Linked DNA regions of Homo sapiens. The protein of the gene in region 2 purifies or fractionates together with the protein of the main gene of each other region. This does not show direct contact. Each region holds a gene or a part of one and is shown on either strand. Other genes may lie near its edges.

What was found. Proteins that work in one complex are often made in the same cells at the same time.
Region 1: the proteins of ENPP6 (region 2) and SCAMP1 purify together in Homo sapiens (affinity purification with mass spectrometry; 4 studies listed by BioGRID and IntAct, with this or other methods). This does not show direct contact.
Region 3: the proteins of ENPP6 (region 2) and GLMN purify together in Homo sapiens (affinity purification with mass spectrometry; 3 studies listed by BioGRID and IntAct, with this or other methods). This does not show direct contact.

What each region holds. Positions count from the first base shown.
Region 1 is NC_000005.10:78,412,593-78,419,619, reverse strand, and holds part of SCAMP1 (secretory carrier-associated membrane protein 1), read right to left. Parts: intron 4,101-7,027; coding exon 4,002-4,100; intron 3,080-4,001; coding exon 2,971-3,079; intron 846-2,970; coding exon 717-845; intron 1-716. UniProt on the Homo sapiens protein: Functions in post-Golgi recycling pathways. Acts as a recycling carrier to the cell surface.
Region 2 is NC_000004.12:184,207,859-184,214,885, forward strand, and holds part of ENPP6 (glycerophosphocholine cholinephosphodiesterase ENPP6 precursor), read right to left. Parts: intron 1-7,027. UniProt on the Homo sapiens protein: Choline-specific glycerophosphodiesterase that hydrolyzes glycerophosphocholine (GPC) and lysophosphatidylcholine (LPC) and contributes to supplying choline to the cells.
Region 3 is NC_000001.11:92,267,985-92,275,011, forward strand, and holds part of GLMN (glomulin), read right to left. Parts: intron 3,669-7,027; coding exon 3,481-3,668; intron 1,793-3,480; coding exon 1,739-1,792; intron 152-1,738; coding exon 121-151; intron 19-120; coding exon 1-18.

The DNA.
Region 1 (7,027 bases), on a different chromosome or scaffold from region 2:
CAGGGTATCAAAATGAGGCTGAGACTACTGTTTGGAATAAAAATGAAACAGAGAGTAAGTGGGAGGTCTGTGCACACAGAGTAAAACTGTTAACGGCTTGACATTTTGTTTCAGTATTCCATGAGTTATTATACTCAAAGTGATGTAAGCATCAGAGCCCCAAACGTATATTCTAATGTTCCGTTCAACAAAATGTCCTGTATTAATTAAGCACTTTCAATAATAAAAGTATCGCAATTGAAAACAAAAAGTAAACTGTACTCAAAGCTATAAAAAGAACACTTAGTTTATGTAATAATTTTATGCCCTTTTAAAAATAGCTAAAACGCCTACATTTAACAGAATTCTTTTAAATGGCCTTCCTCTGCATAAAATTAGTATGCACTATTTTTTCCAAGCAAATCATGTCTAGATAACATCTTTCAAGGAAAAAGAATCTTATAAAATTTTACCCACATGACAGAGAAGTTGTCTTTTCCTCAAAAGAATGCCAGTTCTCAACATACAAGTTTTTCTCAGCCAAGGACTTACATTGTCACATATAGTACAATTCTGAAGTACCTAAATAGGATATGTTTCACTCTGAAATCATGATTATTAAGCTTTATCTATAGAAAAAGAAGACTGGTTTGCTATACTATCCTTGAAATAAAAATGCGGATTTTGACAACAAAAATACAAATTCTAAGCAAAGATGTAAATTGTTGTATACTCACACATCCACAAGTAGTACATAAGCTTTACTGTCTTTTGGAATTCTACAGGAATGTCTACAGAAAAATCCTGATAGAAACAAGGTCCGACAGGAAAATTGCTAGGAAGAGGTGGCCAATTATTTTTTCTACCTGTAAATTTTTTTTAGAAAAAGAAAAGGTTATTTATATTATAACAAATGTGATATTATTTTTTGTTTCATAATAAAGAAAAACTCTATTATGTTAACAAAAGTTCAGAAAAACTGTAGAACTATATCTTTGTATTCCTAGAACTCTGAAAGACAAGCTTTAGATTTTTAAAAAATTTTCTCAGAATATCATCACCTTAGAGCACATTAGATAGTAAAATAATTTTCCAGTGTCATATCATACCATGTTTAGCAGGAACCATTTATGTACAGAAAAAACAAGAAACAAAAAGAAAGCACATATCCAGTGCTTCTACCCTAAAACAGATTTATTTCACAGTCCAAAGAGTCTGGCTGGCATGAAAGGGCCATCCAGTTTTTAAACTTCAATTTTCTCCTCAGCATCTTAAATCTTCAAATATAATTCTGTTATAATTCCTATCTCAAGTGGAGAAAGACTAGCTTCTAATTTTTTCAAGTTTTCTGTTAAGTCCAAGATTAAACCAATACCAAAGAATCAAATTTAGAATACTCAAAATCTGGGAAAAAATAATATCCAAAAGATACATGTACGAAAACCCTACAACAAAGAAAACATGAAACAGTCATGATAAGGAAGCTGAAGAATTATAGAACCTTTAAAAATGCAGAGAAAAACAAATTCAAACTGTAAAGGGAAAAAAATGTGTCTACATAAAGAAACCAGATTAAAAATAAGACTTGAGAAATGGTGGGGGAAATAAAAAATTAAAATAAAGAAGTCAAAACATGAAAATAGCGGGTAAAAACAGCACCTAAGGCCATTTCCCGATTTTAGATGTTATATCCCACAGTTTTTAAAAATTCAATTTTACCTACTTTTCCCAGACCAGGGTAATTTTTATAGAAAGAACAATAACCTATTTCTGATTCTCCCCAATGAGTCTCCTGTGTTCCATTTATCATACTATTCAAATTTCATATAGTTCATTTCTCATACCAATCTCATACTATTTGAGAAGCGGCAGTGAATACTCGTAAAGAAGAGAGGCTCTGGAACCAGAAGTGGCTAGCCACTTACTGGCAAGGTCGCCTTGGGCAACTTACTCTCTCCTCCGAGCCTTAGTTTCCATATCTGTAAAATGAGAATAAAAACTCTATCACCCCTCACAGGATTGTATTGATGATTTAAGTATGAGTTAAGAGGGGAAAAGTACTAAAATGTGCTAACATACTGCAGTCTAATTGTTAATTTCCTACTCTTTGTTACTGTCTTTACTAACATAACTCTCATAGAAATAGTTTGTATTTGCCAGTGCTAAAGAAATAGGATGGATTTTAGTTACAGGTACTTCAGAAACATTGGTCCCAGTTCAACTTTTAGTTTCTCCTTCTATAGATGCTACCTCTGATGCTGCAAGCAAGAAAATGACCCAGGATAAATGTGTTCTCATGAGGCCCTAGACTTACACATTCTAAGTTAAAAAGAAATAGTTCTGTATATTGTTATTGTTCTAGCTTTGCATTGCATCACTATCCCAGACATCCTAACAATGACTTATCTAGCTCTTTTATCTCTTCTTACTCAGAGACTGCTAGCTTTCCCTAAGAGACTCCTTTGAAGTGCTTTGGCAGGCACAAACTTAATAGAATTCACTGCAACAATTCACCACTTATTTCTTTGGCATCATATGAATACCTTAGGCTTCCAATTTTTCTAACATGATTTGACAAAATACTTGCGAGGACTGGGGCAGATAATCTGAAATTAACCTGAATAAATCAGGTAAAAGTCAAATGTAGGGTACATGCAAATGTACTCATAAAGAGTCCACAGAACCAAGGAGGGCCTAACTGCAGAATCAAAGGCTCCTGGCCTCAGAGTAAGCAAAAATTATCATATTCACATTCATTTTCTGTGTGATGAGGCTAACACTGTTCTAAGCTATCAACAAAAGACTATGCAAATCAGCCAAGATTAGAAGGCTACAGAGTATCAAACAGGCAATCTGCTGTGTCTGATCTCCTTGTTAGAACAGGAAAACAGGGTAGGGTTTTATCCACAGGCCAAATGACCTAGGAGCTAGTATAGACATAATGTAAAGTATTTAAAAGTTATTTTTATTTCAAATTTCTTTGGATACTACCATGTTGACTGAGGTTTTGCATTTCTCGTTCCCGACGATCTAATTCTGCGGCTTTTCTTTCTAGTTCTTCCTGGCGCTTAAGAAGTTCAGCTTGGGCCAATGCATGTTCCTAAATAAAAAATATCAATATGTGAATAGACTGTCAGAAGTATAAAATACTTTAACATTTATATGCTAACTCCTACTTCTCTACTATGAGAGAAACCTAATTCAAACACACTTCCAAAGTACAGGAATTTACTGAAGATCATAGTTACAGAAAATATTATGAGGATATTTGGTCCATTTGGTCTTTGGGTTCCAGAAACTCTCAGTGGGAATGTTGGGTCCATTAGGAGAGGAAAACTTCTCTTAGTAAAAGTAGTCACAATCTTTAGGTAATCTGGAAAATGAAATTAAGATGACCTCTATGCCTAAATGAGTGAAGAACAGAGGCAATGGGAACAGTTGAGGAAAATGAACAATAGAAAAAAGGGCAACTGAATTGGCTCCTATTAATCAGATTAAATGATATATAAGGCCACCAATGCAAGAATATTTTCTAATATCTTAAATGTTATAGGAGAATGAGGTCAAAAGATGTGATTAAGAAATTCTTTATAACTCAATTTGCCCTTACATGCTATCAGGCATCTTATTAATCTCCTTTCTTCTCAGATTTTTGCCATCTTCTACCTCCTAACACTGTTATTTTACCATTGCAACGCTCTCCCAATAATATCTATTATTCCATCATTTTTACCTTAATGGTAGTGTGCATTAAAAAGTGGGACCAAAGGCAATAAAAATTTATCCACTGAGATGATACATAAATTCAATAATTCCTAATAATGGAATAAAGCAAATGGTATAAGCTGACAAAAAGAGGAATGAGTATTTGAAGGGTGACAAGACAGCAAATCCAGACTTGAAAGTGAGTTAAAAATTAAGCAACAGAAATGTAACCATATAAAGATTTATTTTGCTCTGAAAGCAAATGTTATTGATATTATAATGGCCAATATGAATTTATACAACTAACATGAACTAACCTTTGCAATCTGTGTATAAGCTGGATGTTCCTCTGTTGGTTTCATTATTGCTGGTTGTGTATTGGGTACATTAGGCATCTTCACACCGCCTGGTGGAGGCTAGGAGGATTAAGAGAAGGAAAATTATGTAACACAGAGATCCAACTTTAACTTCTTTCAAAAAGTATAACACCAATAAAATGAAAAATCCCAAAATCTGCATCTCTTCATTCCCTGCTCTCTCATAGTCAAGTGTGTGGCAAAGAGCTGCTTAAATTCTCCATCTCCATTTTCTCCAACTCATTCATTTTTCAACTCTACAATCAGACTGCTACTTATAACACTATATGACAAACACTCTCCTCCAGGATACCGTATGTTAATAGAGGCCAGGCATGGTGGCTCATGCCTGTAATCCCAGCACTTTGGGAGGCCAAGGCGTGTAGATCACCTAAGTCAGGAGTTCAAGACCAGCCTGGCCAATATGGTGAAACCCCGTCTCTACTAAAAATACAAAAATTAGCCGGGTGTGGTGGCGGGCACCTGTAATCCCAGCTACTTGGGAGGCTGAGGCAGGAGAATCACTTGAACCGGGGAGGTGGAGGCTGCAGTGAGCCAAGACTGTACCACTGCACTCCAGCCTGGGCAACAGAGCAAGACTCCATCTCAAAAAAAAAAAAAAAGAACTTTTGAGTTTAATAGTAAAATACAGATAGAACCAGACAAAAGAACTACACCAAGGTTTACTGCCAACTCTTCCCTCTTGAGAAAGCTACATGCCAGTGCTCTGAAGAGTATACAGGAAAGTTCTTGGTAGAACCCCACTAAATTTAAAAGAGTAAAAGGGAAGGCGTAAGGAGAGAGAAAATAAATTACCCAACTTCCACTTTGCCAGTGAGGATCAGTAGTGTCTGAAAGCTGCAAGATCAGGAAGTAGACATCTACAAGTCCATCAATGGGGGATTGGTTAAATTACTGTATATACATACAATGCAGCCATGAGAATAAATTAGCGATAGAAGAATGTCTTTTAAAATACTAAATAAAATAAAGCAAGCTGGCCGGGCGCAGTGTCCTATGCTTGTGATCCCAGTACTTTGGGAGGCCGAGGCAAGTGGATCACAAAGTCAGGAGTTCGAGACCAGCCTGGCCAATATGGTGAAACCCCATCTCTCCTAAAAATACAAAAATTAGCCAGGTGTGGCGGCGGGCGCCTGCAGTCCCAGCTACTTGGGAGGCTGAGGCAGAAGAATCGCTTGAACCCGGGAGGCGGAGGTTGCAGTGAGCTAAGATCGCACCACTGCACTCCAGCCTGGGAGACAGAGCAAGACTCCATCTCAAAAAATAATAATAATAATAAAATAAAAATTAAATTAAAAAATAAAGCAAGCTACAGAACAGTCTGTATATGACCTTTTTTTCAACAGACACAGATTTATACATGCCCCCATAAAATATCTGGGAAGTCTCGGCCACCTGATATCAGACGGACTTGCACCTGTTGTTTTATATGCCTCTGTATTATTTGCTTCCCTCGACACATGCACCATATACTACTTTAATAAAAATATATTTTTAAAGTACTCTTTAGAATGACCATAAGAAAAAAACAAAAAACAAGGATGGGAACATGAAAAGAACAATAGAAGCAAAAACAGTAACAGAAAAGAAAAGAAGAAAGGAAAGAAAGAGAAGAGGGAGGGAAGGGGGAGGTCATAAATAAGAAAAATATAAAAAAGAAAGAAGCTGCACAAGGACGTTCAAGGATCTTAAGAACTATTAAAACCAGAAGACACCACCAATATATAGCAGGATTTTACTCTGACACAGCTAACAGCAGCCCTGAAAAGGAAGCCACGCATAACCAAAGATATAACTGTAGTTCAGCTGATTCTAAAATGCATATACAAAAGGCAAGAACCGGCTGGGTGCAGAGGCTCACACTTGTAATCCCAGCACTTTGGGAGGCCAAGGTGGGCAGATCGCCTGAGCTCAGGAGTTCGAGACCACCCTGGGCAACATGGTGAAACCTCGTCTCTACTAAAATACAAAAAATTAGACAGGCATGGTGGTGTGCACCTGTAGTCCCAGCTACTGGAGAGGCTGAGGCATGAGAATCGCTTGAGCCTGGGAGGCAGAGGTTGCAGTGAGCCCAGATTATGCCACTGCACTCCAACTTGGGCTACAGAGTGAGAGTCTATCTCAAAAAAAAAAAAAAGGCAGGAACTAAAAACAGGTCAAACCATTTTGAAGAAAAACAAAGTAGGAAGACCTATGATATCAAGGCTTATTATAGAACCACAGTAATTAAGAGTGTAATACAGATGCAAGGACAGAGAAGTGTACCAATAAACAAAACAGACACAGAAACAAACCCACACAAATGCAGAAACTTGATATCTAACAGAGGTGTCACTACAAAACAGTGAAGAAACAATGTGTTAATCAATAAACGGTGCCTGGATAACTGGTTACTCATATAGGAAAAAAAAACATTTCTTACTTCGCATCATATACAAAGATTAATTCGAGGTAAATTCATGATCTAAAACTGAAAAAGCAAAACTTAAACACTTTCAGGGAAAAATACATGTGAATATTTTTATGAATATTTCTTGAGCTTCTAGAATATGAACTCTAGAAATACTGTGTATTTTGTTTATGACCTATCCCAAGTACCCAAAATAGTCCCTGAAACAGTAGATGCTCAGTAAGTATCTGTCAAATTAAGAATGGAAAACACACACCACACAAAATTGACGAATTTAATTACACTGAAATTTACAAAAAGTAAAAAGTCAAATCATGGACTAGGAAAAGATAGTTGTAATGCATATAACAGAAAATTGCTACCCAGAATATATAAAGAATTGTTACAAATCCATGAAAATACAAACTAATCGAAAAACTAGCAAAAGATCTGAACAAGCAATAGAAAGAGGTCAATAAACATGTGAAAAGAGGTGTAACAGCACTAGTAATCAAGAAGTGCAAAAACAATCATATATCATTTCAAAACCATGAGATAGAAAAACAAACTCTGACAA
Region 2 (7,027 bases):
AGCATTGGTGTCTCCTGGGCCCCTCTCCACCGCCTGCGAGGGCCGCCTTGCTGTGTCCTCAGATGGCCTTTTCTCTGCACGTGCGCATGCCTGTGTCTCTTCGCCTTCCTATACTGTCATATTGGAATAGCCCGCTCTAATGGCCTTGTTTTAACTTGGTCACCTTTAAAGACCTTATCTCCAAATGTGGTTACATTCTGAGGTACTGGAAACCCAACTTGAACTGGGGGACAGGAGGATGAGGACACATTTGGGCTCACAACACCTTGCTACACACTTTAGAATATTAGTGGGCACCCATTCGCGAGTGTTCTGCCTCCCCTGCTTGAATGTAATCTCCCTGGTGAAAGGCCTGTTTTAAGATTCAGTGGGAGGAGCCAAGATGGCCAAATAGGAACAGCTCTGGTCTACAGCTCCCAGCGTGAGCGATGCAGAAGATGGGTGATTTCTGCATTTCCATCTGAGGTACTGGGTTCATCTCACTAGGGAGTGCCAGACAGTGGGCGCAGGTCAGTGGGTGCGCGCACCCTGCGCGAGCCGAAGCGGGGCGAGGCATTGCCTCACTTGGGAAGCACAAGGGGTCAGGGAGTTCCCTTTCCGAGTCAAAGAAAGGGGTGACGGATGGCATCTGGAAAATCGGGTCACTCCCACCCAAATACTGCGCTTTTCCGACGGGCTTAAAAAACGGCGGACCACGAGATTATAACCCGCACCTGGCTGGGAGGGTCCTACGCCCACGGAGTCTCGCTGATTGCTAGCACAGCGGTCTGAGATCAAACTGCAAGGCGGCAGCGAGGCTGGGGGAGGGGCGCCCGCCATTGCCCAGGCTTGCTTAGGTAAACAAAGCAGCAGGGAAGCTCGAACTGGGTGGAGCCCACCACAGCTCAAGGAGGCCTGCCTGCCTCTGTAAGCTCCACCTCTGGGGGCAGGGCACAGACAAACAAAAAGACAGCAGTAACCTCTGCAGACTTAAATGTCCCTGTCAGCTTTGAAGAGAGCAGTGGTTCTCCCAGCACGCAGCTGGAGATCTGAGAACGGGCAGACTGCCTCCTCAAGTGGGTCCCTGACCCCTGACCCCCGAGCAGCCTAACTGGGAGGCACCCCCCAGCAGGAGCACACTGACACCTCACACGGCAGGGTATTCCAACAGACCTGCAGCTGAGGGTCCTGTCTGTTAGAAGGAAAACTAACAAACAGAAAGGACATCCACACCAAAAACCCATCTGTACATCACCGTCATCAAAGACCAAAAGTAGATAAAACCACAAAGATGGGGAAAAAACAGAACAGAAAAACTGGAAACTCTAAAAAGCAGAGCGCCTCTCCTCTTCCAAAGGAACGCAGCTCCTCACCAGCAATGGAACAAAGCTGGATGGAGAATGACTTTGACGAGCTGAGAGAAGAAGGCTTCAGACGATCAAATTACTCTGAGCTACGGGAGGACATTCAAACCAAAGGCAAAGAAGTTGAAAACTTTGAAAAAAATTTAGAAGAATGTATAACTAGAATAACCAATACAGAGAAGTGCTTAAAGGAGCTGATGGAGCTGAAAACCAAGGCTCGAGAACTACGTGAAGAATGCAGAAGCCTCAGGAGCCAAAGCAATCAACTGGAAGAAAGGGTATCAGCAATGGAAGATGAAATTAATGAAATGAAGCAAGAAGGGAAGTTTAGAGAAAAAAGAATAAAAAGAAATGAGCAAAGCCTCCAAGAAATATGGGACTATGTGAAAAGACCAAATCTACATCTGATTTGTGTACCTGAAAGTGATGGGGAGAATGGAACCAAGTTGGAAAACACTCTGCAGGATATTATCCAGGAGAACTTCCCCAATCTAGCAAGGCAGGCCAACGTTCAGATTCAGGAAATACAGAGAACGCCACAAAGATACCCCTCGAGAAGAGCAACTCCAAGACACATAATTGTCAGATTCACCAAAGTTGAAATGAAGGAAAAAATGTTAAGGGCAGCCAGAGAGAAAGGTCGGGTTACCCTCAAAGGGAAGCCCATCAGACTAACAGTGGATCTCTCGGCAGAAACCCTACAAGCCAGAAGAGAGTGGGGGCCAATATTCAACATTCTTAAAGAAAAGAATTTTCAACCCAGAATTTCATATCCAGCCAAACTAAGCTTCATAAGTGAAGGAGAAATAAAATACTTTACAGACAAGCAAATGCTGAGAGATTTTGTCACCACCAGGCCTGTCCTAAAAGAGCTCCTGAAGGAAGCGCTAAACAGGGAAAGGAACAACCGGTACCACCCGCTGCAAAATCATGCCAAAGTATAAAGACCATCGAGACTAGGAAGAAACTGCATCAACTAACGAGCAAAATCACCAGCTAACATCATAATGACAGGATCAAATTCACACATAACAATATTAACTTTAAATGTAAATGGACTAAATGCTCCAGTTAAAAGACACAGACTGGCAAATTGGATAAAGAGTCAAGACCCATCAGTGTGCTGTATTCAGGAAACCCATCTCACGTGCAGAGACACACATAGGCTCAAAATAAAAGGATGGAGGAAGATCTACCAAGCAAATGGAAAACAAAAAAAGGCAGGGGTTGCAATCCTAGTCTCTGATAAAACAGACTTTAAACCAACAAAGATCAAAAGAGACAAAGAAGGCCATTACATAATGGTAAAGGGATCAATTCAACAAGAAGAGCTAACTATCCTAAATATATATGCACCCACTACAGGAGCACCCAGATTCATAAAGCAAGTCCTGAGTGACCTACAAAGAGACTTAGACTCCCACACATTAATAATGGGAGACTTTAACACCCCACTGTCAACATTAGACAGATCAACGAGACAGAAAGTCAACAAGGATACCCAGGAATTGAACTCAGCTCTGCACCAAGCGGACCTAATAGACATCTACGGAACTCTCCACCCCAAATCAACAGAATATACATTTTTTTCAGCACCACACAACACCTATTCCAAAATTGACCACATACTTGGAAGAAAAGCTGTCCTCAGCAAATGTAAAAGAACAGAAATTATAATAAACTATCTCTCAGACCACAGTGCAATCAAACTAGAACTCAGGATTAAGAATCTCACTCAAAACTGCTCAACTACATGGAAACTGAACAACCTGCTCCTGAATGACTACTGGGTACATAACGAAATGAAGGCAGAAATAAAGATGTTCTTTGAAACCAACGAGAACAAAGACACAACATACCAGAATCTCTGGGATGCATTCAAAGCAGTGTGTAGAGGGAAATTTATAGCACTAAATGCCCACAAGAGAAAGCAGGAAAGATCCAAAATTGACACCCTAACATCACAATTAAAAGAACTAGAAAAGCAAGAGCAAACACATTCAAAAGCTAGCAGAAGGCAAGAAATAACCAAAATCAGAGCAGAACTGAAGAAAATAGAGACACAAAAAACCCTTCAAAAAATCAATGAATCCAGGAGCTGGTTTTTTGAAAGGATCAACAAAATTGATAGACCACTAGCAAGACTAATAAAGAAAAAAAGAGAGAAGAATCAAATAGACGCAATAAAAAATGATAAGGGGGATATCACCACCGATCCCACAGAAATACAAACTACCATCAGAGAATACTACAAACACCTCTACGCAAATAAACTAGAAAATCTAGAAGAAATGGATACATTCCTCGACACATACACTCTCCCAAGACTAAACCAGGAAGGAATTGAATCTCTGAATAGACCAATAACAGGATCTGAAATTGTGGCAATAATCAATAGCTTACCAACTAAAAAGAGTCCAGGACCAGACGGATTCACAGCTGAATTCTACCAGAGGTACAAGGAGGAACTGGTACCATTCCTTCTGAAACTATTCCAATCAATAGAAAAAGAGGGAATCCTCCCTAACTCATTTTATGAGGCCAGCATCATTCTGATACCAAAGCCAGGCAGAGACACAACAAAAAAAGAGAATTTTAGACCAATATCCTTCATGAACATTGATGCAAAAATCCTCAATAAAATACTGGCAAAACGAATCCAGCAGCACATCAAAAAGCTTATCCACCATGATCAAGTGGGCTTCATCCCTGGGATGCAAGGCTGGTTCAATATACGCAAATCAATAAATGTAATCCAGCATATAAACAGAGCCAAAGACAAAAACCACATGATTATCTCAATAGATGCAGAAAAAGCCTTTGACAAAATTCAACAACCCTTCATGCTAAAAACTCTCAATAAATTAGGTATTGATGGGACTTATTTCAAAATAATAAGAGCTATCAATGACAAACCCACAGCCAATATCATACTGAATGGGCAAAAACTGGAAGCATTCCCTTTGAAAACTGGCACAAGACAGGGATGCCCTCTCTCACCACTCCTATTCAACCCAGTGTTGGAAGTTCTGGCCAGGGCAATTAGGCAGGAGAAGGAAATAAAGGGTATTCAATTAGGAAAAGAGGAAGTCAAATTGTCCCTGTTTGCAGATGACATGATTGTATATCTAGAAAACCCCATTGTCTCAGCCCAAAATCTCCTTAAGCTGATAAGCAACTTCAGCAAAGTCTCAGGATACAAAATCAATGTACAAAAATCACAAGCATTCTTATACACCAACAACAGACAAACAGAGAGCCAAATCATGAGTGAACTCCCATTCACAATTGCTTCAAAGAGAATAAAATACCTAGGAATCCCACTTACAAGGGATGTGAAGGACCTCTTCAAGGAGAACTACAAACCACTGGTCAACGAAATAAAAGAGGATACAAACAAATGGAAGAACATTCCATGCTCATGGGTAGAAGAATCAATATCATGAAAATGGCCATACTGCCCAAGGTAATTTACAGATTCAATGCCATCCCCATCAAGCTACCAATGCCTTTCTTCACAGAATTGGAAAAAACTACTTTAAAGTTCATATGGAATCAAAAAAGAGCCCGTATCGCCAAGTCAATCCTAAGCCAAAAGAACAAAGCTGGAGGCATCACACTACCTGACTTCAAACTATACTACAAGGCTACAGTAACCAAAACAGCATGGTACTGGTACCAAAACAGAGATATCGATCAATGGAACAAAACAGAGCCCTCAGAAATAACGCCGCATATCTACAACTATCTGATCTTTGACAAACCTGAGAAAAACAAGCAATGGGGAAAGGATTCCCTATTTAATAAATGGTGCTGGGAAAACTGGCTAGCCATATGGAGAAAGCTGAAACTGGATCCCTTCCTTACACCTTATACAAAAATCAATTCAAGATGGATTAAAGACTTAAACGTTAGACCTAAAACCATAAAAACCCTAGAAGAAAACCTAGGCATTGCCATTCAGGACATAGGCATGGGCAAGGACTTCATGTCTAAAACACCAAAAGCAATGGCAACCAAAGCCAAAATTGACAAATGGGATCTAATTAAACTGAAGAGCTTCTGCACAGCAAAAGAAACTACCATCAGAGTGAACAGGCAACCTACAAAATGGGAGAAAATTTTCGCAACCTACTCATCTGACAAAGGGCTAATATCCAGAATCTACGATGAACTCAAACAAATTTACAAGAAAAAAACAAACAACCCCATCAAAAAGTGGGCGAAGGACATGAACAGACACTTCTCAAAAGAAGACATTTATGCGGCCAAAAAACACATGAAAAAATGCTCATCATCACTGGCCATCAGAGAAATGCAAATCAAAACCACAATGAGATACCATCTCACACCAGTTAGAATGGCAATCATTAAAAACTCAGGAAACAACAGGTGCTGGAGAGGATGTGGAGAAATAGGAACACTTTTACACTGTTGGTGGGACTGTAAACTAGTTCAACCATTGTGGAAGTCAGTGTGGCAATTCCTCAGGGATCTAGAACTGGAAATACCATTTGACCCAGCCATCCCATTACTGGGTATATATCCAAAGGACTATAAATCATGCTGCTATAAAAACACATGCACACGTATGTTTATTGCGGCATTATTCACAATAGCAAAGACTTGGAACCAACCCAAATGTCCAACAATGATAGACTGGATTAAGAAAATGTGGCACATATACACCATGGAATACTATGCAGCCATAAAAAATGATGAGTTCATGTCCTTTGTAGGGACATGGATGAAATTGGAAATCATCATTCTCAGTAAACTATCGCAAGAACAAAAAACCAAACACCGCATATTCTCACTCATAGGTGGGAATTGAACAATGAGAACACATGGACACAGGAAGGGGAACATCACACTCTGGGGACTGTTGTGGGGTGGGGGGAGGCGGGAGGGATAGCATTGGGAGATATACCTAATGCTAGATGACGAGTTAGTGGGTGCAGCGCACCAGCATGGCACATGTATACATATGTAACTAACCTGCACAATGTGCACATGTACCCTAAAACTTAAAGTATAATAATAAAAAAAAAAAGAAAAAAGATTCAATGTTCCTGGCATTCAATTGTTTGATTCATCTTCATGATCATGATTGGCATTTTGGTTGCTTTTGTCCTGATATAAACATGTTTTGAGGCAAATAAATAATCAGCCATGGTGGCTTCATGGCAGCAACTGGGCTAGATGGTTTCAAGGTTGCTCACAAATAGGCCTGTTGATTCCCCATCCCCATCCACTGTGAAATTCTCTGTCTCAAGGGAGTTTCCGCTATTTGCATACTTTCTACACGAAGGCCTCCTAGGAGGGTCCAGCCCTAACTTTAAAATTACCTGTGCAAATAGCAAAGACTTTGAACCAACCCAAATGCCCATCAATGATAGACTGGATAAAGAAAATGTGGCACATATACACCATGGAATACTATGCAGCCATAAAAAAGAATGTGTTCATGTCCTTTGCAGAGACATGGATGAAGCTAGAAGCCATCATTTTCAGCAAACTAACACAGGGACAGAAAATCAAACACCACATGTTCTCACTCATAAGTGGGAGTTGAACAATGAGAACACATGGACACAGGGAGGGGGACATCACACACTGGGCCCTGTTGGAGGATCGGGGGCACAGGGAGGGAGAGCATTAGGACAAATACCTAACGCATGCAG
Region 3 (7,027 bases), on a different chromosome or scaffold from region 2:
ACTATTCTCCAGCAGCTCCTACAGATTAAAATATATGCAGATACATATATAGTGAAGTCAACAGCTGTTATTTGTTGACATAACTATGTATTTAAGTTATAATGGGAACAAACATCTTACCAATCCTTTGGAGATAACAGACTCTTCTGTTCTGAAAAATAATATTAAAATTTATCATGAATTTGTAAACTATTTTAGAATGATACTTCATCTTATGAAAAATACAGCAAAAACTGAAATTTTAACACTTTTAAAATGCATATCATTAAGGAGAAATTCTGTTGAAGAACTTGATCAAAAGTTTTAATCCATCTTTGATCTGTCTTTCGGTTTGGCTAAGGCCACTAAATCTGACCAAAATAAATCTACTCAGGGATTATTTCCTAACTTCAAAACAATAGATCTTCAACAGCAAGTGCTAAGAAACTAACTAAACCTGATATAACCAATGCTATATATTCCAGTTGATTATTCTGTAAAATCTTTCCAATTCTTTTTATTCAAAAAAAGACTCAATGACTCTGCAGTTTGGAAATCTCAAGAATTTAGGACTTAGATTCAAAACAATACATATTATCACTGTATGAATAACAGAAACTAAATGTAATGAATATAAAATCATTAAAACATACATAATACAGCAAATTTACAGAATTAGTAACTACTTGTGCCAGGAGACCCTTGGAAATTCCTGCCTTGTATGCTGAAGCTTTGGACATTGCCATGTTACAAATCTTCCTTCACCTGGTAAGAGATGGGACTGATAAACTGTCACTAGTGTTCATAGAGGATAATTGCAAAGCCCTAACTGATCTCAGGGGATAATTTAAACATGTTACATGTTATAGTGAAAGAAAACAAAGCATATAGTTCTGTGAAATTCTTTAATTTCTGTCTAGAAATTATGTATACCTGTTACTCTGTAATTTCCTTTTTTTTTTTTTTTTCTTTTGCGACAGGGTCTTACTCTGTTGCCCAGGCTGGACTGCAGTGGCATGATCTCTGCTCACTGCAGCCCAGACCTCCCAGGCACAGGTGATTCTTTCACCTCAACCTCCCAAGTAGCTGGGACAACGGGCAGGCGCCACCACTCCTGGCTAATTTTTTCTATTTTTTGTAGAGAGAGAGACTGGTTTCGAACTCCTGGGGTCAAGCAATCCTCTCGCCTTGGTCTCCCAAAGTGCTGGGATTATAGGCGTGAGCCACCGTGCCTGGCTTTTTTTTTTTTTTTTTAAATAGAAAGTCCTGCTGCTTAGCACCTCAAATGAGAAAAGTTGTAATTGAATGACATCACTGTCAATAATCTAAATTATAAAAGGTGGAAGTCAAGACACCTCCTTCCTTTTGATGCAATTCACAGACTGTGTCCATGAAGGAAAAATACGGAAGAACTTCTTTTATTGACTGCCCTTCCTTAAGATGGAGGAGGATGCAGTGGGGTAGAGGTGTTTTAATTTACCAACTTTTGGAGTAAGAGAAGAAACCTTAGAAACAGATGACTGTAAAAGCCCTTAAGACAAAATCTTAATACTGTCTTAAGTTTAAAATAAAACAGACTTTGGTGTAAAACCTCCTTGACTCATTTCTGTCTCTCTCGTGAATTATTTGCCTCGCTGTTTTATAAAATAACCAATTAATTAATTAGAGCTTAGCAAAGAAAAGGCAGTCTCCGCTGATCTTAACAAGGACTATTTTAACACTACTATTTCATTTTGAGATACCATCTAAACGATCTTACCTTTGCAAAAAGACTTCAATGTGCCCCATATTAAACTGCAAAAGGTACAATGGGCTAAAATAGAAACAAAACAAATATATATATTATACACACACACAGAGATATGTACACACATACATATTGTTATGGGTTGAATTGTATCTCCCCCAAAAAAGATATGTTGGAGTCCTAACCTCTAGTACCTCAGAATTTGACCTTATTTGGAGATAGGGTTATGGAGGTAATCAATTTAAAATGAGATTATTAGGGTGGGCCCTAATCCAATATGACTGTTGTCCTTATGTAAAAGGAAAGTTTGGAGACAGACACAAGCACACAGGGAGAACAGCATACGAACATGAAGGCAGAGAACAGGATAATGCATCTACAAGCCAAAGACCATCAAAGATTGTGAGCAAATCACCAGAAGCCAGGAGAGAGGCATGGAGAAGATTCTCCTTCACAACCCTCAGAAGGAGCATCCAGAACTATGAGACAAACTATTTCTGTTATTTCAACCATCCAGTTGGTAGCACTTTTTTACAGGAGCCCTAGCAAGTTAATATACATATGCTGTATAAGTTATTTTGGTGATAGAATGTGATGCTTAAGAGTATAGGCTCTGGGGTCAGACAGAGCTATCTGCATCCCACCTATGCCACAAAGTAGTTAGATCTTCAGTGGTATATTAACTTGTCTAAGCCTGTTATTTTCATCTGTAAAATGAGAGAATGCTCTATTTCACAGGCTTATTATAAGGATGAGATAATGCATATAAAGTTATTAGCATAATGTTTCATACATGGTGAACATGCAAATGATAGCCAGTATTTCAACATTTACATACGAATGTACTCCTAGCTATATTCATATATAAATGCACAAACTCACACAAATACCCAATGCCTATAAGACAAATACACAATCCTTATTATCATAGAACTCAAAGTCCAGAAGATATTACATTATAAAATTATATATTTTAAAAATAATTTTAATAAACATTGTGGGAAAAGAAGACAAGGTCAAGGTAATTATAATAGAAGGATTCAACCTAAATTGGGTGGTGAGTGAAGGCTTTCTTCAGAAAGTGACATTTAAGGATAAAGAGAATTTTAAGCATATACAAAGGCCAAATAGGAAAATTCATAACATTTAAACTAGAAACAAAAGAAGGTCTGTGTCACTGGAGCATAGTAAACAAGAGGAAAGGTGGTAGGAGATGAATCAGGTCAATTAAGCAGGGACCAGACCAGGCACAAGTTTGTCTCAGAAGTTATGCAAAGGCATTAAGACTTTATTCTTAAAGCAATAAAAAGCCACTGGAGGGTTTTCAGTAAGGGACTTCTTTTAAGGCTTCGCTTTCTGGTATGTTGAGAATGTGTTAAATTAAAAGGAAGTAAAAGTAGATATATAAATCCACTCAGGATTACAGCAGTAATCCAGTGAAAAGATGATGATACCCCTGGGTACCTGGCTAGTTCCAGGGTGGTCTCAAAAGCTTCAAAACCAAGCCCTGTTTATCATCTTCTGATTCTTGTCCCCACCATTCCCTTACACCTATTTCAACACTCCCCACTTTCATTACTTGTCTACTGCTATCTTTAACAGATTATAGCTGGGATCATTCTTATTAAAAATAGCCTTTACTATTTATTTAAAATGTATTAGTGTGTTAATATGCATATATTGGACATTAGATAAATGAGAATTTTATGAAATTCCTTTTAGAATACATGAATAAACCAAACACTAACTCTTACCTTAAGACCATTGGAAGCTGATCAATATGGATGCCCTGTACAAATACTAGATATGCCAGAGAAGCCATTGAGTCTGCTAACTGTTTATTTTCTTCTTCTTCAAATTCAAGGTAATTCCAAGTTCTCTTTTTCCTTCCATGATTAAAAATCATTTTGGGGAAAGGGTGTCCAATTGCTGATAAAAAACCCTATGAAATGGATAAAAAAGGAAACCATAGCACACAGACTCTAAAATGCCCCCCACCCCGTGTATTCAAACTCCACATTCTCACCAAGGGGAGGTGTAATCACTCCCTTTGAGCGTGAGTGGGACCTATGAGACTTGCTTTCAACCAACAGAATGCGCCAAGATGTCACTCCCATGATTAGATTATATGACAAAAGTGAAGGGGTTTTTGCAGATGTAATTAAGGTCCCAAATCAGTAGATTTTGAGTTGGGTGGCCCTAACTTAATCAGGTATATTTTTAAAGGGGGTCCAGGCCTTCCCTGAGAGTCAGAAACTTTGCTCTCTGACTCTCTCCCTTGCTGGCTTTAAAGAACTAAGCTGCCATGTTATGAGAAGGCTCATGGACAGAACTACATGGCAAGGGACCAACTACAGGCAGCTCCTAGAAGCTAAATGTGGTCCCTGGCTGACAGCCAGCAAGAAAATGGGGACCTCAGTCCTACAGCTTAGAGGAAATGAATTCTGCCAGCGGAGGAAACCTGAAAGTGGATCTTTCCCCAGTTAAGCTTCTGATAAGACTACAGACCCAGTCAACAACTGGCCTGTAGCCCAATGAGACCCTGAGCAGAGGACCCAATTAAGCTGTGGCTGGACTCCTGATCCATAGAAACTGTGAGATAACAAAGGTATGCTGTTTTAAACTGCTAAGTTTGCAGGAATTTGTTATACAGCAATGAAAAACTAATACAGAAGCCAACAGCAAAATCGTATTTTACATAGCATTTTATACATCAGAAGTATTCTAAATTAATTCAGAATCATAGTTTAAAAAGTTTAAAATGATGAATTTTATGTATATTTCACCACAATTTTTTTTAAAAAAGTGCTTCAGGGATATTTGAGAGCAATCTGAAACGTGAGACATACAAATATATGAAGCAAGGGTAAAGCAACTAAGATGAAGAATACTCTAGGAACAATGCTCCACTAACATTGTGCCTGTAGAGAGTGGGATGCAGGAACGCTGGGCAGGGCAGCTGGGCCTGAGGAAACACTGTTGATCTCTCAGTCATCAGGGTTCTCATGTGAGACGAGAAAGAGAAGCATCCTTGCATGAGTGGGTAGGACCACAGGGCTAAATAAAGCTTTCCGCTCAGGAAACAAGATCACTCCTATGCCTCTTATACTGGTACTAATTCTAGCGTACCAGAAAGCACCTACCTTCAGAATCCACTGACATTGATTTTGAGTTTTGGCTCTACCATTTACTACTTGTGTGACACTGGATGAGCCATAAAATGACATAATACCTATGTCAAATATTTATCGAGCAGCTCCACAAAAAAAGCGTAAGAAAGTTAAAGTCACAACAAACTACAAGAGTTAAAAGGGAATGAATGACAAAAACAGCTAAAGCAGAATGAATAACTTCCACACAAGTCACTCTTTTATTCAATAAACACTTAAGTGCAAGGTGCTGGGCCTGACTTTGTGGGGAATTATAAAGCCAAGTATAAGTCTTTTCCAGCCTTCAGGGACTTAAAATCTGCTGATCCCAGATGGTTCCATTAGTCATTTCAGAATACAAAAAGGAACCATGGAAAATCATCCTCAGTCACAAGAGACTGCTATTCAGCGACCAGATGCTAAATATATACTGCTGCAGTGATTTTCAAAGCCATGCATTCTGGTTATAGCTACAAGACAAAAAGTTTATTGCACTCTGATTCCAAATGTCCTTAATCATGAAGCTCCATTTCTTTATTCAGCCAATGCTACATGTGTTTTTTCCAGAGTAAGGTAGCCCTGTTTTTTTTTTTTTTTTTTTTGGCGACAAGGTCTCACTCTGTCACTCAGGCTGGAGTGTAGTGGCATGATCATGGCTTACTGCAGCCTTGACTTCCCCAGGCTCAAGCAATCCACCCTCCTCAGTCTCCTGAGTAGCTAGGACTACTGGTACATGCCACCATGCCCGCTATTTTTTTTTTATTTTTTTTATTTTTTATAGAGATGGGGTTTCGCCATGCAGCCCAGGCTGGTCTTGAACTCCTGGGCTTAAGTGATCTGCCCACCTTGGCCTCCCAAAGGCCTGGGCCTACAAGCGGGAGCTACCGTGCCCAGCCTAAGATACCCTTTTTAAAACATTATTATATGCAACTAGATTCTACAGTGCTGCTCTGGATATCTGAGATCCAATCTGTTCCCAAATCTGGGCCTTCACTATCTATCCACACACCATCCAGCAGTCTTGCTCAGATCCAGGCTGTACCTGGCACCATACAATTTCTCAATATTCATGGCAGCTTTTGTCCTTTCAGAAATGTTCCTGTACTACAGCCTTTGGGACATTCTAGTAGTTCTGTACCAAAATAACTTGTACCAAAGTGAGGATGGCTGAGGCCTGTGAATCCCAACCACACCACACTTACCAGTACTTCTCCAGCACAGAACAGAAGACATCTCCTCATTTCATCTCCAAGCTGGTCTCACCTCTACTTCTAGACTGCTACGTGCATCCTTACTGCTGGCTCTTTCTACTTGCAATGTTCCTTCTACTGAGATTTTAGAACCACTCACCTACATCCTCAGTCTCTTCATAGGATGCTTGTTCTGCCTCACTGCTTTAACTAAACCTGTCTGATTTCTGGTGGGAGATGCTCATTCTCACACCTTTTATACCACAGGGCCTGGAATGCAGCTGTTGGGTAGAGGAGTACAGGTAGGGGCTTAGCACAGTATTGTAGTATTGGCTTTTTCTGTACTTTTCAACAAAAGCACATTTTCCTTTGATGCAGATAACATACTGTCCTTTTCTCTGTCATATGCTGACTTCCTGGTAATTTCCTGACATTCACTGAAGACTCTGGCACCTTCTCATAATCTTTTTCTCTACCCAATTCCTGCTATGATCCTGGGAAAATTCAATGTTCATGGAGATAACCCCTATAACAGGCTAGTCTCATGGTCCTTTATTATTATTAATTTATTTTTCAATCAAGCAACAAGTCATTGCATCCACTCTCATGGTTCTCAATTTCTAAATTCTAGTGACTTTTAGTTCTAATCCATTTCAGTACCTAATCCCATGCTGGATCTCTGAACATCTGGAACTATTCTGTATTTGATACTTTAAACTCCAATATCCCATTTTCTGACCAAAATCTGTCATCCTGTCTCTCCTAGCAATCTGCTTTTCTACTTCTGACTTCTCCAGTCCTGTGATTCCTACATTTTGACCTACCTAGGCATTCCCTCCTAACCCCCCTTCTTTCCCTATCCAACCTGAATCATGGATTATTGACCAGCTGAACTATCTGCACCCTGTATTTCCTTCAGCAGTATCTACCCAGTAAAATGCCAGCCTTGGAAAAATAACTGC